2 linked regions of the Homo sapiens genome follow. The protein of the gene in region 2 interacts with the protein of the main gene of each other region in a pairwise test. Each region holds a gene or a part of one and is shown on either strand. Other genes may lie near its edges. The genes, in order: POLH and TRAIP.

Region 1 (3,918 bases), on a different chromosome or scaffold from region 2:
GCCCTAGGCAACCACTACACTGCTTAACTGTTCTGGACATTTCATATAAATGTGGTCTTTTGTGAAAATATGTGGTCTTTTGTGACTGGCTTGAAGTCTTTCACTTAATATGTTTTCAGGTTCAGCCGTATTGTAGCATGTATTAGTACTTAGTCATTTTTTGTTTGTTTTGTTTTTGTTTTTTGAGACGGAGTCTCGCTCTGTCACCAGGCCAGAGTGCAGTAGTGCAGTCTCGGCTCACTGCAACATCCGCCTCTCCAGTTCAAGTGATTCTGCTGCCTTAGCCTCCCGAGTAGCTGGGATTATAGGCACGCGCCACCACGCCCAGCTAATTTTTGTATTTTTAGTAGAGATAGGGTTTCACCATGTTGGCCAGGGTGGTCTCAATCTCATGACCTTGTGATCTTCCTGCCTCAGCATCCAAAAGTGCTGGGATTACAGGCGTGAGCCACTGCGCCCGGCCAGGACTGACACCTTTTTATGGCTGAATAATATTCTATTGTATTAATATATACCATATTTTGCTTATCTACTTATTAGTGAATGGACATTTGAGTATATTTCCACTTTTGGCTATTATGAATAATGTTGATATGAACATTCATCTACAAGTTTTTGTGTAGACACCTGTTTTCTTTCCAGCATATACCTTGGAGTATAATTTCTGGGTCATATGTTAACTCTATGTTTAGCATTTTGAGGAATCGCCAGACTGTTTTCCACAGTGGCTACACCATTTCACATCCTTACCATCAATGTAAGAGGGTTCCAATTTTTCCACATCCTTGTTACTGACTTTTTAAATTTTAGCCATTCTAGTGGGTGTGAAATGGTATCTCATTATGGTTTGGCTTACATTCTCTGATAATCTTTTCATGTGCTTGTTGGACATTTGTATATCTTTGGGGAAATGTTTGTTGAAATCCTGTTCCTGGGCCGGGCGTGGTGGCTCAAATTTTTGGAGGCCGAGGTGGGCAGATCACCTGAGGTCAGGAGTTCGAGGGTAGCCTGGCCAACATGGCGAAACCCTGTCTCTACTAAAAATACAAAAATTAGCTGGGCGTGGTGGCGGGCACCTGTAATCCCAGCTACGCAGGAGGCTGAGGCAAGAGAATCGCTTGAACCTGGAGGTGGAGGTTGCAGTGAGCCGAGATTGCGCCATTGCACTCCAGCATGAGCAACAAGAGCAAAGCTCCACCTCAAAAATAAAAAAGAAAAAACAAAAATCCTCTCCCCTTTTTTAAATTGGGTTGTCTCTTTATTATTGAGTTTTAACATGTCCCTTGTCAGATACGTGATTTGCAAATATTTTCTCCCATTCTGTGGGTTTTCTTCTCACTTTCCTAATGGTATTGTTTGATGCATCCTCTTCTTTTGAAATGTCTTGGAGTTCTACAAGTCAACTGTACATGTCAAGAATAGTCCAAAACTGCTCGTTGCTCCTTTTTAGCTGGAATGGGTGGTAAATGTTTGTTCCTTTGGTAGGCATCATAAAGAGGGATTTGATCCAGTTGCGTTATCGCCCTTTTCCGCTTTTGCCCACTAGGTGGCACTTGTTTCTCATCTCTCTCTAAGTCCCTGGGGCCTTTCTTTCCACTTTTTTTTCCTAAGAGACAGGGTCTTGGCTGTCATCCGTGCTGGAGCACAGTAATACAACCTTAGCTCACTGCAGCCTTGTAGCCTCAACCTCCTGGGCTCAAGTAATCCTCCTGCCTTAGCCTCCCACAGTGCTGGGAGTACAGGCATGAGCCACTGTGCCTAGCCTTTTCTTCCCTCTTTGTATCCAGTGGGGATCCCTGAAAATCTATCTTTTAAGCTTCAAAGGACTTTATGCCAAAAATAATTCAGGACATAGCAGATCCTATCACTTCACTGTTTAAAACATTCCAGTGGTTTCCCTTCACACTTAAGGCATATTAAGGAATTTTTTAAAAGTAATTCTATAAAGCCAAATATAATCTAATTTCTTGCTACTTCTCTGACCCCATCTCTTATCTTCCCCTCACTTATTCTAGTCTCCACTTCACTGGCCTCCTTCCCTTTATCTAACACACTAAGTAAGCTCTTACTTTAGCACTTCCCGTTTCTTTGCCCTGGAGACTCTTTGTTCATATATTCTTAATATTTGCTTCCTTGATTTATTCAAATCTCTGTGCATGTATTACATTCTCCAGGAGGTCCTCCCTAGTTACCCTATCACAGCAGCAGCCTCCATCACTCTCTGCCTTATTCTGCTTTTCTTCATAGCACTCATCTCTGTGGTCATTTCTGTTACATGTCTATTTTTTATTATCTATAGTTCCTACTACAACATAGGATCCATGAGGACCTGGACTTTATTTTGTTCTCTCCTGCATCTCTAGGCACTGTCTAGGCATGCAGTTATAGTTGAATAATTTTGGTCAACAAGGACTCCTTTATAATTGCTAATTTGTATTCCCTCAAGATATATAAATCCATACAAATGTATTTTTTATCCAAAAAGTAGTTCCTGCTCTTAGCTTGTTTGCCTTAGGGATACTTCTTCTCACTAGCATCTTTTGATAGGGGTCCCTTATGTAGAATTTTCACCTTCTTATATTTCTGCCTCTTGACCATTATGTCTCAGTTTGCTGAGATTACAGCATTCAGATGCTTCAGACTTCACTGAAAAGTGAGTCATGATCTTGCTCTCTCAAGGCAGGCTCACTATATGGTATCTTCTCTAGATAAGCTGTAAAAAGGTGTTGGTAGAAACTTCTGGAATTGGTGGCGAATGTTTGTTTACCATAAGAGCCCCAGGGCAGAAAAAAAGATATGACTTGAAGCCTAGTTCCACTTTGCTTTCAGACAATTACTTACCTGAAACCTTCCTTCAGTCACAAAATAGTATCTAGTATTGTAGATATTTGTTATAATTGTCCTGCTTAGACACCATGAAAAACATTTAGGGGAGTCCCATTTTCATTTGTGCTGTCCTGTTCCCATCATCTGTCAAAACATCCTAGGATACTCCGATGTTCCATAATCCAAATTATGTCTTCTTCAGTTACTTTTTACACCCAGAAATAGCATTAACACTTTTTTGTGGAACCATGTAATCAGATTTCTATTCAGAAAATGCATTCTGTTGCATATATATAGATTCTTTTTTTTTTTTTTTTTTTTTTTGAGACAGAGTCTTGCTCTGTCATCCAGGCTGGAGTGCAGTGGCACCATCTTGGCTCACTGCAACCTCTGCCTCCCAGGTTCAAGCAATTCTCCTGTCTCAGCCTCCCGAGTAGCTGGGATTACAGGTGCCTGCCACCACGACTGGCTAGTTTTTTTGTATTTTTCAGTAGAGATGGGATTTCGCCATGTTTGCCAGGCTAGTCTCGAACTCCTGACTTCAGGTGATCCACCTGTCTCAGCCTCCCAAGGTGCTGGGATTACAGGCGTGAGCCACCATGCCTGGCCTCTTTCTCTTTTTTATATTTTATCTTTACTCTTTGCAGAACTCAGTTTACCTTTATTCTTGACTTTTAAACTACTGTTTCCAAACCATTGTCACCCTGGTTCTTTTAATTTCCTCTCCTGCAGTTCAGTACCTAGAATTCAGATGCTCCTCATAACTTTATTTCTGGTCTCCATCCTTTCCACCCACAGAATGACAGGGTAGCCACCCAGCTGGTTGTGAGCATTCGTGTACAAGGAGACAAACGCCTCAGCAGCCTGCGCCGCTGCTGTGCCCTTACCCGCTATGATGCTCACAAGATGAGCCATGATGCATTTACTGTCATCAAGAACTGTAATACTTCTGGAATCCAGACAGAATGGTGAGTTCTTTTCTAGCTCATCTTCTCAGAATAGATGATGATTCTTAGCTCTGTCTTAGCTCTACAAGACATAATTTTTATCATAAAGTTCCTCATTGTGTCTAATCACTCAAATTTTCACATG
Region 2 (3,918 bases):
TTTAATTAGTCTCCTACTAGTAGACTCCCCTACTCCTAGGGACCAGGGAGAAACTAAGTCCTCTCTGGAAAATGATACCATCATCCTGGCCTCAAAGATTCCTATAAGTACATTTTCTTTTCTTTTCTTTTTTTTTTTTTTTTTTTTTTTTGAGATGGGGTCTCAATCTGTCACCCAGGCTGGAGCGCAGTGGTGTGATCTTGGCTTACTGCAACCTTCGCCTCCCAGGCTCGAGCAATCCTCCCACCTCAGCCTCCCGAGTAGCTGGGACCACAGGCGTGCACCACCATGCCCAGCTAAAATTCCCATAAGTTTTCAAATACCATGTACAACATATAATCAAGAGTAACCAGGCGCAGTGGAATACTACACAGCAAGAATAAATGAGTCTACAGCTAAGAACAATATTATGAATAAATCACAAAAACATAACACTGAGGAAGAGAAGCCAGATACAAAAAGTTATATTTTGTATGATTCTATTTACACAGTTTAAAAGTAGGCAGGCCAGGCCCAGTGGCTCACGTCTGTAATCCCAGCACTTTGGGAGGTCGAGGCGGGTGGATCATCAGGTCAGAAGTTTGAGACCAGCCTGACCAACATGGTGAAACCCCGTCTCTACTAAAAATAGAAAAATTAGCCGGGTGTGGTGGCGCACGCCTGTAATCCCAGCTACTTGGGAGACTAAGGCAGAAGAATCGTTTGAACCTGGGAGGTGGAGGTTGCAGTGAGCCGAGATCACGCCACTGCACTCCAGCGTGAGGGACATAGTGAGACTCTGTCTCAAAAAAAAAAAAAGTAGGCAAAATTCATCTATGCTCTCAAAGTCAAGACAGTAGCTATCTTAATATGGGGAGGTGGAGGGAGGTGTTGGTAGGGGTTGGAAGAGCATATAAGGAGGTTTCTAGAAGGTTTCTAGAGCTGATAATAGTCTGCATTTTTTTTTTTTTTTTTTTTTTGAGACAGAGTCTTGCTCTGTCAGCCAGGCTGGAGTTCAGTGGCACGATCTCGGCTCACTGCAACCTCCACCTCCCAGGTTCAAGCAATTCTCCTGCCTCAGCCTCCCGAGTAGCTGGGGTTACGGGTGCACGCCACCATGCCCAGCTCATTTTTATATTTTTTTAGTAGAGACAGGGTTTCACCATGTTGGCCAGGCTGCTCTCAAACTCCTGATCCACCCGCCTCGGACTCCCAAAATGCTGGGATTACAGGCATGAGCCACCATGCCCGGCCAATAGCCTGCGTTTTCCTGTTTTCTTTTTTTTTTTTGGTGGGGGGACTTTCGAGACAGGGTCTCACTCTGTCACCCAGGCTGGAATGCAGTAAAGCAATCATGGCTCACAGCTGACTCTACCTCCCAGGCTCAGGTGATGATCACCTCAGCATCCTGGGTAGCTGGGACCACAGGCACATGCCACTATGCTCGGCTAATTTTCTGTGTTTTTAGTAGAGATTTCATCATGTTGCTCAGGCTGTTCTAGAACTTCTGGGCTCAAGCAATCTGCCTACCTCAGCCTCCCAAAGTGCTGGGATCACAGGCGTGAATCAACACGCCCAGCCATACCCTGTTTCTTGATCTGAATTCTGGCTGCATAGATATGTTCAATTTGTAAACATTCTGTAAGCCATATACTTAGAATATGTGTACTTTTCTGAACTATATTATACTTCAATTTTAAAATGTTCTTTTTTTGAAATGGGGTCTCACTCTGTCATCCAGGCTGGAGTGCAGCAGCACAATCATGAGTCACTGCAGCCTCAACCTCCCAGGCTCAAGCGATCCTCCTGCCTCAGCCTTGCAAGTAGTTGGGACTGCAGGCACAGGCCATCATGCCCAGGTAATTTATATTTTTTTCACTTTTTTGTAGAGATGGGGTGTCACTGTGTTGCCCAGACTGGTCTTGGACCCCTGGGCTCAAGCAATCCAGCCACCTCCCAAAGTGCTGGGATTAAAGGGGTGAGCCATCATGCCTAGCCAAAAAAACACTTTTTTTTTTTTTTAAGACTGAGTCTCGCTCTGTCACCCAGGCGGGAGTGCAGTGGTGCAATCTCGGCTCACTGCAACCTCCACCTCCTGAGTTCAAGCGATTCTCCTGCCTCAGCCTTCCAAGTAGCTGGGACTAGAGGCGCCCGCCACCATGCCCGGCTAATTTTTTTGTATTTTTAGTAAAGACGGGGTTTCACCATGTTAGCCAGGATGGTCTCGATCTCCTGACCTCGTGATCCACCAGCCTCGGCCTCCCAAAGTGCTGGGATTACAGTTGTGAGCCACCGCGCCCAGCCAAAAAAACATTTTTTTAAGTAAACAGGTACACAAGAAAAAAAAGCACTATGAAAACAAACCAGAAGAAATGCCCACAAAGACTTTAGGTAGGCCAGGTGCAGTGGCTCACGCCTGTAATCCCAGCACTTTGGGAGGCCGAGGCGGGCAGATCACGAGGTCAGGAGTTCAAGACCAGCCTGGCCAACATGGTGAAACCCCGTCTCTACTAAAAATACAAAAATTAGCCAGGCACGGTGGCGAGCGCCTGTAATCCCAGCTACTCGGGAGGTTGACGCAGGAGAATTGCTTGAACCCAGGAGGTGGAGGTTGCAGTGAGCCGAGATCGGACCATTGCACTCCAGCCTGGGTGACAGAGCGAGACTCTACCTCAAAAATAAATAATAACACAGGATAAAAAAGTTAATGGAATAGAGGCAATATATGAAGAGATAATGGCTGATAATTTTCCAGAACTGATTAAAGAAATTGCTCCACACGGCCAGGCGCGGTGGCTCACGCCTGTAATCCCAGCACTTTGGGAGGCCGAGGCAGGCAGATCATGAGGTCAGGAGATCAAGACCATCCTGACTAACACAGTGAAACCCCATCTCTACTAAAAATACAAAAAATTAGCTGGGCATGGTGGCAGGCGCCTGTAGTCCCAGCTACTCGGGAGGCTGAGGCAGGAGAATGGCGTGAACCCGGGAGGCAGAGCTTGCAGTGAGCCAAGATCGTGCCACTGCACTCCAGCCTGGGTGACACAGCGAGACTCCGTCTCAAAAAAAAAAGAAAGAAAGAAAGAAATTGCTCTACACGTTAAAGAAATCTAATGAATCCCGAGCAGAATTTGTAAAAAGAAATTCGGCCAGGCACAATGGCTCATGGCTGTAATCCCGGCACTTTGGGAGACCAAGGTGGGAAGATCACCTGAGGTCAGGAGTTCGAGACCAGCCTGGCCAACATGGTGAAACCCTGTCTCTGCTACAAGTACAAAATTTAGCCGGGCATGATGACACGTGCCTTTAGTCCCAGCTACTCGGGAGGCTGAGGCAGGAGAATTGCTTGAACCAGGGAGGTGGAGGTTGCAGTGAGTTGAGATTGTCCCACTGTGCTCCAGCCTGGGCAACAGAGCAAGACTCTGTCTCAAAAAAAAAAAAAAGAAAAGAAAAAGGTAAAAAGAAATTCATATTGGATACACTATACCAAAACTGCAGAAAGCCAAAATCAGAGAAAATTCTAAAGGTAATGAGAGTCTGAGGATAAAGTTCCAAAGTATGCTTAAAGGAGTAACTGATAAACTAAAATCTGACTTCAATAGCTACAACGGAAGCTAGAAGTTGGATAAGGGCCGAGTGTGGTGGCTCACACCTGTATTCCCAGCACTTTGGAAGGCCAAGGCAGGAGGATTGCTTTAGGCCAGGAGTTTGAGACCAGCCTGGCTAACATAGCGAGACCTTGTCTCTAAAAACAATAATAAAATAAAATAAAATAAAACAGATGAAAAAAGATATACCATGCAGTCACCAAAAGACAGCTGAAGTGGCTATACTAATAGCAGATAAAATGGACTTTAAATTAGACAAGATAGGCCAGGCACGGTAGCTCACGCCTGTAATCCCAGCACTTTGGGAGGCCGAGGTGGGCGGATCACGAGG

Evidence for each region.
Region 1: the proteins of TRAIP (region 2) and POLH interact in a two-hybrid assay, tested with the Homo sapiens proteins (one study listed by BioGRID).

The regions. Positions count from the first base shown.
Region 1 is NC_000006.12:43,606,930-43,610,847, forward strand, and holds part of POLH (DNA polymerase eta), read left to right. Parts: intron 1-3,624; coding exon 3,625-3,794; intron 3,795-3,918. UniProt on the Homo sapiens protein: DNA polymerase specifically involved in the DNA repair by translesion synthesis (TLS). Due to low processivity on both damaged and normal DNA, cooperates with the heterotetrameric (REV3L, REV7, POLD2 and POLD3) POLZ complex for complete bypass of DNA lesions.
Region 2 is NC_000003.12:49,849,714-49,853,631, forward strand, and holds part of TRAIP (E3 ubiquitin-protein ligase TRAIP), read right to left. Parts: intron 1-3,918. UniProt on the Homo sapiens protein: E3 ubiquitin ligase required to protect genome stability in response to replication stress.